Linked DNA regions of Homo sapiens: region 1 is linked to region 2. The links come from fine-mapping of genetic effects on plasma protein levels. Region 2 holds a variant in brackets. A gene starts in the other region. All regions are shown on their forward strands.

Evidence for each region. PIP is the posterior inclusion probability: the model's chance that the variant is causal. The UK Biobank Pharma Proteomics Project read protein levels with antibody pairs (Olink). The fine-mapping took linkage between variants from a reference panel, not from the people measured, so its PIPs are less certain.
Region 1: it holds the start of CNTN5, and the variant in region 2 is fine-mapped to the plasma level of the CNTN5 protein (UK Biobank, PIP above 0.99).

What each region holds. Positions count from the first base shown.
Region 1 is chr11:99,018,189-99,022,717 of GRCh38, forward strand. It overlaps CNTN5 (contactin 5), which reads left to right and starts at 2,761. Exons shown (of 25, transcript NM_014361.4): 1 at 2,761-3,082.
Region 2 is chr22:27,684,626-27,688,625 of GRCh38, forward strand. The region is part of intron 4 of CPMER (cytoplasmic mesoderm regulator); the gene reads right to left. Among named protein-coding and RNA genes, the nearest start is that of CPMER, 28 kb to the right of the region's middle. The variant G/A (reference allele first, on the strand shown) is at 2,093.

The DNA of each region.
Region 1 (4,529 bases), not on the chromosome of region 2:
ACTTGGAAAACACAAGGTAGTTTGTTTCTTTTTAGTGGAACTCTAACAAGGAGTTTTGTTTGTTTGTTTCTTATTTTAAGCACTGTTGTTTCTCTAATTCCAGACATTGACCTGCTTAAACCTGAACACTGTGGATATAAAAGGATACAGAAGTGTACCTGATCTATAGAGCCCTTACTCTCCAAGCAGAAAATTGTAAAAATATACAGTACATAAGTTAACTCCATAACAGCAAAATTCTAAAGAAAGATGAGTCAGATAGACTAACAGTTTGTCTGTTACATATATAGATATTAATAGGGAATATATAATTGTATATTATTACAAATTAGAACATTAAAAGTCATAAAAGACATGAGAATAAATATAGTCACTCTTTCTGGGTCCTGAATGAAGTGTAGCCAGGTAACCTAGTCACCCCCAAATAATGATTGAAGTCAACATTTTAAATTTGAACTGACAGAAATAGACCTTACTATTTTTAATTAAACAGATTCAACGTTTCCTTTCTCTCCCTCTAAAGCATCAGATAACTTCGCAAGGAAAAGTGCTATTACATTATCTACTTGTTTCAAAAATATATTCACACCATAGTCTTGTGATAATATTGCTCTCTTTATAAAAAGTAGAAACATTAAAAGCTTTTATTTAGTTCTTGCTTAAGAAAGGAGAAATATTTAGTCCATTTACATCATGTAAAAGGTAAATTTTCTTGTTCATGTTAATGGTAGGAGGGCACCATGAATCATGTGACCGATAGCATTTCCTTCTTTACATTGGCTGCTAACAAAGTTAATGGCAGACCTAGCACCATTTGTAACAAAAACATCAATGCAGTTTTCTCTATAAACCTCATTTCTGGCTTCATCTTATCTCTCCTCCTATCACTTTACCGTTTGTCTTGATCTCACTGACCTACATTTTTTATTCATTTTTTTAAACTGAATAGATTTTTATAAGCCAACTTACATCCTTTCTAGGGCAAAGCTAGTTGAAAGAAATTATGTGACATAATGACTCAAAATGCCCAAATTATCGGATCATGGGTAATATAGAATGGTGTTCTAAGAAGGGAAGAGAACTTTCAGAAAGCTTTCTACACTCCCGATCCCTCTTTCAGGCTGCATGTGCTCAATTATACACTTTTAAAGGCAAAAACCTCATCGAACAATAAAAAGAATGCGTTAGAGCTCCTACACTTTGAATTTATTTTGTGATGTATTTAATGTGGTTATAAAAGTCCTGGTAGTTCTCTCTGTGAACCGACAGCCTGACAGAGGAGAAGAGCCAGTGGGGCAGAGAAAAAGCCACAGAAGGGGAATCTCCACAACGATCCCTCAGTTAACACATAAAGAAGATAACCTAGTTACTGGAAAGCAGGAACACGAATATAAAAAGTATGGAAGAGTGGAGAAGTATTAAATGCACACAAATTTGTCTTTGCTACAGAACAAGCAATCAGCCTAGATCCTGAGGATAGCGATTAAAAGCAGAGACTGGGTGTTTGTACATCATTGGATGAATGAGAAGCAGCCAAGAAACAGGAAAAGACTAATTTTAATTACCAGAAAAACTGCAAGAGAAAGAACACAGGGCTAGTGGTAGACGGCTTCCAGCTACAGGCTGCCTGGCACTGTACTCTCCTTGCCAATTAGAGCCAGTCAGACCCCATCGGGGGATTCAGTGAGCAGAAGAATCAGCGTCAGTCCAGGGTCAGGCTGCTCTCAAACACACATGAAAAACGGACACCAGCGGACACGGGGTGCGACCCTAGACTCCCATGCAGTTTCTTATACAGACACAGAGATAGAAAGCAGTACGTGGGATTTCCTTTCCATTAAATACAGGTGCAAACCACATTCTCTATGGAAATATATTGCAAAGGAAATGTTATATAATTTATTTAACAAATACCCAATTACCATCAGCCCAATCGTGGGAATTGGAAAACGACTCAAAGACTGAGAGGAAAAAAAAAAAAAAAGTAGAGAGGAGGACTGGCAGAACAATGGCACTAAAGCTGCCACACTGTGGATTTACTACCTGTGTTATTTTTCCAATTACAGCCATTGTAATATAAAAATTCCGAAAAAAAGGTTGCTGAGACCATTCCTTCGCTTTTTTTTAGAACTGAGTCAACACCCCAAATCAAAGAGAAATATAAACAGGCAGAGCCTGATAGTCCTTAGATGAAACGCGTAAGTGCAGAAACAAAAGAGAAGTGCTTCCCATTCAGGACTTAAGAAAATTCTGCAAAGTGAAAAAGTCCACTCTCAAACCGACCTAAGTGAACGCGTCAGTCTGTGCTGCTGCTGTCAGAGGTGTGAGCCGGGGACTACAGGAATCAGAGTGAAGACAGGAGCGGAGGAAGGGACTCTCGCCTGGATCTCCCGTGCCGACTCCAGCCAGCACGTTTGCTTTGTAATCTATGAATGTTAAATACGGAGGGGTTGCAGAGCAGAAACGCTCGGGGAAGGGGGGCAGGTCCTCTGTACTTAGCAGGGAAGGAAAATGCCGGTTGACTAGTGAGACGAGTGGAGAAACACAGAGCACCCTCCGGGAGGCGCACAGTTCGTTAAGCCCAGGGACATGCTCAATGAACCTTTGCAGCAAGAGGCAGTGAGGCGCTGGACGCGGGCGCCGGTGACAGCGCGGGCGGCCGGGGAGGGGCGAGGGGCCGCCCCGGGAGGACACAGCCAGTCAGAGGCGCGGGGCGCAGGGCGCGCGGACGCATTGGAGGAAAACACGCGAGCCCCAAACACACCAGCCGCAGGAGGCGCCGCACCTACTTCCCAATATAACCAACTACGGCGTGGGGGAGCGGAACTGCGAGAAGGCGGCAGCCAAAGTGCCATTAAAGCTCGGGGCGGAGAGGATGCGTTACCTGGGTCCCGTCTGCTGCGAGAGGCAGGGCAAGCTGGAGGATTCCCTCTGAATGATTAAGAACTCCGCAATTCGCCTCTGCCACAGGCTGCAAAGGACCCGAGGAACCGCTCTCTCTGAACTGTGCTGATGGGCAGGAGGATGGGAGACAGGAATTGAGAGTCACAGAGGAAGGACAGTGGAGTCTGGCATCTTATTGGTAAGTGGCTGACATTCCTTTGCCAGTGACTGCGTTCTGTGATTGTGCACTTCATCTCCCAGCCACTTAGGATTTTTGACACACTCTGTTCTGCAAAGCCATCCTTTCTTGCCATGTTGCCAGAATGTAAAAACTGTAAGATGAAGCTTTTTTAAATAAAGGAAACAAAACACGACTTTATTTCCTGCTGGGATTTTATGGCAAAAAGTTGAAACAAGAGTAAATATAACCTATTTGTATATCTCCTAATGCCACCCAAAATAAGAGTAAGCAATTCCTACACGCAAATTGCAAATTGTAAGGCAATAAATGCCAGGATAAAGTGAGGATGTTTCTACAAAAGAAACTAAATGTTTGGAAAATAGGATGCCGTTCTCAGGTACTGAATGTATGCCTTATGTTTGAGCAATGAGTTTCCGAGACTAAATAATTGGGCATCTGGCATTGCAATAACTTGTTAAAATTCAGTAGGGATGCTCTATAAGTGGAGTTCTACAAAGTTCGTGAGACTGAGAAAAACTGTATCTTGGATTATGCTGAGCTTTTTTCTAAAGGTTGTATAGGATTGTGATAGATTAAAAAATTATGTTCAGACATCCTTACCATGTTTTGTAGGGAGATATACGGAAGAGAATATCAATTTGCACATACACAAACCTGAGAATTACTCTGATGACCTGAACAATAAGTTGTTTCAACTATATTTATTTGCGAAAGAACCAGAATCCACTAAATATTTTAGAATTATATTACTTTTAAATCTTAGAACTGTTCTCCCAAGAAAAATACAATTTCATGTGGTAATTTAAATGCAGGTGAGAAGCAAAAAACTTTTAAACTGTTGTATGTTCAATGCCTTACCTACATTTCATTCATTTGTTTCTTAATTTAAAAGAGAAAATCATTTAGAGGGTCAATACTTCTACTTTGATTCTCAATTACGACTGTGGAAATAAGGATGAAAGAAGTAGATGTTCATTAGAATACTAGCATTTAAAATTATAGACAAATAGTCAAATTTAAAAATTAATGCAGATATCATCGATTACTGTTGAATTGCAACAGAATTACAGAAGTACTTATGACCATTACAGGGAGCTTAAAGGAGTTCATTATGATTAATATTGTGACTCTCAGTATTTTAAAAAATAATGATTAGGTCATTAACTGTTTTTGAAAATGCCTGTAGTCAATTTTGAGCAATTCTCATGGTTGCTTGCATATTCTCCTATTTCATGCTCAAATTATTCTAAGTTAAGTGGGGACTAGTATGCTGAGTCTTAAACTTAACAGGCATAAGTTTACTCTGACTCTAATCGAAAAGAGGTATGAGTAAGAATATGTCATATAAAACTAATGATAACAAATTAAAGATATTACATAAAAAGATCATCTAAGTCCATTAAAGGGAAAAAGGCAAAAAAAATCAGAGTTAAAGTTATAAAAA
Region 2 (4,000 bases):
TATTACTGTATATAAATTATGTCTCCATGAAAAGAAAAAATATCTTTAGAAATCTTAGATTGTCTTAGGGAGATACAATGCCTGGAAAGTTCGAATCCTGCAGGATCCCTGAGCGCATCCTTACCCCATGGGACCCTAATGGGGTTTCAGAGGCCTCCAAAGAGGGAGGATGCTGGGCAGGGGGCTCTCATTCATAAACCCCTTCCCCAGATTGGTATCCTTTATAAGAGTTCTAGGGGCCGAGAAAGAGTTTAGCAACAACAGCAATGGAAAGGTCAACTCTGTCTGTTTCCTGCTTTTAGGAATGTGAAAATTCTTGAGAAAAGTAGGAGGCAGAACCCGTGGGAAGAGGGTACACGACGGGGATGGGGTATGTGGGAATGAATGAGTGTGGCGGTCTCGCAACCCTAATTCCCACTTCAGTCAGGGAGGCTCCCATGGCCTGTATTTTGCACGTAGGGTTTCTGAGCAATAAGAATTCACTCATGGAAAGCTTCGGCTCCGTTTCAAAAGTGTACACACCACTGCCTTTTAGTCTTGGCTTTTAGCCCAAAACAAGCAGTACAGTGGACAGTTAAAGGCATCACGCTGTGGAGCCAGAAGGCCAGGTTCAAATCCCAGCCCCAGCTGTGTGAATTTGGGGAAATCTCTTCATTTCTCTGTGCCTCAGTTTTCTCCTCTGTAAAAATGGGGATAATGATAGGACCCAACTCGTGGGTTGTTATAAGAATAAGAAGCATTAACTCTTAGGAAGCACGCTGAACCAGATTGAGCATCTCCTGTTTGTTTGGGGTCTGTCTAGGATGATACCTTCATTCATTCCTTCAACAAGCTTGCGTGATGGAGACGCCAGGCCTTGGGAAAGAAGGCAGCCAGGCCAAGTCATGACAAACATCCCTCTTTCCCTACCCCAGGTCACACCTGTCTCTCACCTTCCGGCAACCCCACCTTCAAGTCCTTCCTGCTCCACCAGGCAGGTCCCTGGAGCTCGGCCTGACAAAGGCTGTTGGCTTATCAGGACACCCAGGCCACAATCCAGAACTGGCTCTGACCCAGGAGCCACCAGTGTCTGATGTCCCCATGTCAAAAAGAGAGGCCACACTGTCCCAGACCTGGACTGGCTGTCCTCAGTGCCCTGTTGCACAGAGCCCAGACTCCCTCTCCAAGAGGCGGGATCCTACTCCTTGACCCCCTACATCTGGCGGAGATCCCGCTCTGGGGCATACAGGCAACCTGAGGCTCTGTCCCCATAGATGTTCACCTGTTCATCCAACCTGGTGGCTTCTTGCCCCGGGAAGCCCTCACCTTCAGTTAGTCACTCACTTAACGACTATTTTTAGGACAACTACTTTGTGCTAAGCTGAGTCCCCGAGGCTGGAGACATAAGGAACAAGAGAGACACAGTCTGCCCTCATGTAGTTCACATCTAGTTGAAGAAACAAGCAATAAACAGGTAGAGATCATTTCACCTGGAGATCAGTTCAAAGAAGAAAATAACTCAACAGACTGGAAGCAGGTGTGGTCAGGGAAGACTTCCTGGAGGAGGTGACAATTACACAGAAACCTGATAGATAAGAAGGAGCTGGACACAGGAGGATATGGGTGAAGGGCATTTCAGGCAAAGGCAAAGGCAAAGCCATGTGCAAAGGCCAGGAGGTGGGAAAAAATTAGAGAAAGAGGAAAAAGGAGCAGAGTAAGCTAGGAAGCCAGTGGTCAGAGGTGAGAATGGCCAGTGCCCACCAAGCCTCAGCACACCTCTGTCCTGCTGGCTCAGTTGAAACCTTCCCTTGATCTAGAAATATACAGCTACCACTGATCACTGACAGAGCCTGGTGGCTACCGGAGCTGCAGAGGTCTATGCTCAAATCCAGCCTCAACCTCCTCCCAGCTGAGTAACCTCAGGCCAGGGCATGACCCTCCTGGGCCTCAGTTTTCTCCTTGGAGAATGGGGGCCTAGTGGGGTTGCTGCAAGTGTCAGGGAATGCATGTAATGGACTTAACTCAGTGCCTGGCACGCAGTGAACGATAGGCCGACGTTGGCCAAGCCAGAAAATCCGTCTGCCCTGACGTCAGGCAGGGCCTAATTATAGAC[G/A]CCCAGAGGTCACTTTCAGCCTCTTGTGACTCAGAGGCAGTGCCAGGCAGCAGACAGTGGGAGGGACAAAGAATCAGGCCGGCTCGACCAATGCAGAGCCACAGGGGAGTGCCTCCGTTTCCCTGTCTATTAACCAGAGATATCAGTGGGACCTGCCTCCCAGGGCTATGAGAAGACTCCAAGTTGGGCCTAGTACTTCATAGGAGCTCTGTCAACCTCCACAGTCCACAACTGCACGCACAAATGGAAAAATCGTTGTAATTTAGATAAATTTTCCCTTGAGGCTTTCTTTCTTTTATTCAACAAATATATGCTGAGCCCTTTGGTGCATCTGGCTCTGTGTTAAATACAGTGTGTACAAAAAATGCCCGCGACAGCCACTGAGGGTTTACAGAGCCAATGAAGAGAGTCAGCAAGGTTACAGGGGCATATTTAATGTGCTCAAAGAACAAACTAGAGGTTCCAGAAAGAACCATTCTTCTTTGTTCTTCCACTGGTTTGCTTATTCAGCCTCACAGCAGCCAGGCCTTGTCCCACAGGCCTTGGTGTCTGAAAATTTGCTGGGGCAAGTGGAGAATCCTTTACCCCGTCCCTGCATGTGGGACCCTCTGGTGTGACCCTGGCCTCCAAGAGGACCGTGTTCACCTTGAGATCTGAGTTCAAGGCCTGGGTCTGCTCCTGCCTTGCTGTGAGAACTTAGGCAAGGCATGGAGCCATGCTGTGCCTCAGTTTCCTCACCTGTGCATGACATGAGTGATGGTAATAATGAAAATGCCCTGTTGGGGCTATTTAGGGGTTAGATGTGATCACAGGGACGGAGTGCTCTGTGTCCAGTGCTCCAACGGGAATCATTGCTCTGTGTCCGGCACTCCAACGGGAATCATTGCTCTGTGTCCAGTGCTCCAACGGGAATCATTGTCGTTACCCTCTGTCTAGGGCAGGGCCGTCCCATTTTTTGGCTCCCTGGGCCACATTAAAAGAAAAAAATTGTCTCGAGCCACACATAAAATACACTAACACTAATGATGGCTGATGAGCTAAAAAAAAAAATTTGCAAAAAAAAACTCATAATATTTTAAGAAAGTTTACAAATTTGTGTTGGGCCTCATTCAAAGCCATCCTGGGCTGCACGCGACCTGCAGGCACCAGGTTGGACTAACTTGGTCTAGGGAATGATGCAGCCTCCAGCACCAACATCGCCCCTGGCTCAAGGAAAGGAGACATACCCTGTACACACCCCCAGCTCCAACCCACTCTTGGGTCACTACCCAACTCTTGAGTCATTTCCAGGTCACCCCTTGGAAATGAGGGTGCTGGACTAAGTAGAGGTGACCACCACGGATTCTTGCTTTCCTTCCAGAGTTTTTCTTGGGCAGCAGTTGATCATGCATGGACTACATTTCCCAGGTTCCTTTGCATCTAGGTAGGGCCATGTGACTAACTCTGACCAAAAGACTGTGAGAAAAAGTGATGTGCATCACTTCAGGGCTGAAATGATTAACAAGCAGGTATGTCTCCTCGGTCTCTCTTTCCCCACCTGCCTGCTGAATGGAACAGAGTTCAAAGTAAGTGTTGAAAATGGTAGAGCCACAAGATAGAAGGAGCCTGAGTGCCTGAGTCACCGCATGGAGGCAGATTGCCCAACCAGAAATGCCAGCAGTGGGTTGTAACATTAGTGAGAAATAAACTTATACTGTGTTAAACCACTGAAGTGACAATTGCATCTGTTACAGCAGCTGGCATTGCCTTCCTTAACTATCACATATACATTATACCTTTTTTTCAGTTGTATATGCATTATCTCATTTAACACTCAGCAAATTTCTAACACCAATGTGAGGTACTGATCTTTTGAGCATTTAATTTGGGCCAAGCACTGGGCTAAGTCTTTTGCATACATTTTCTTGT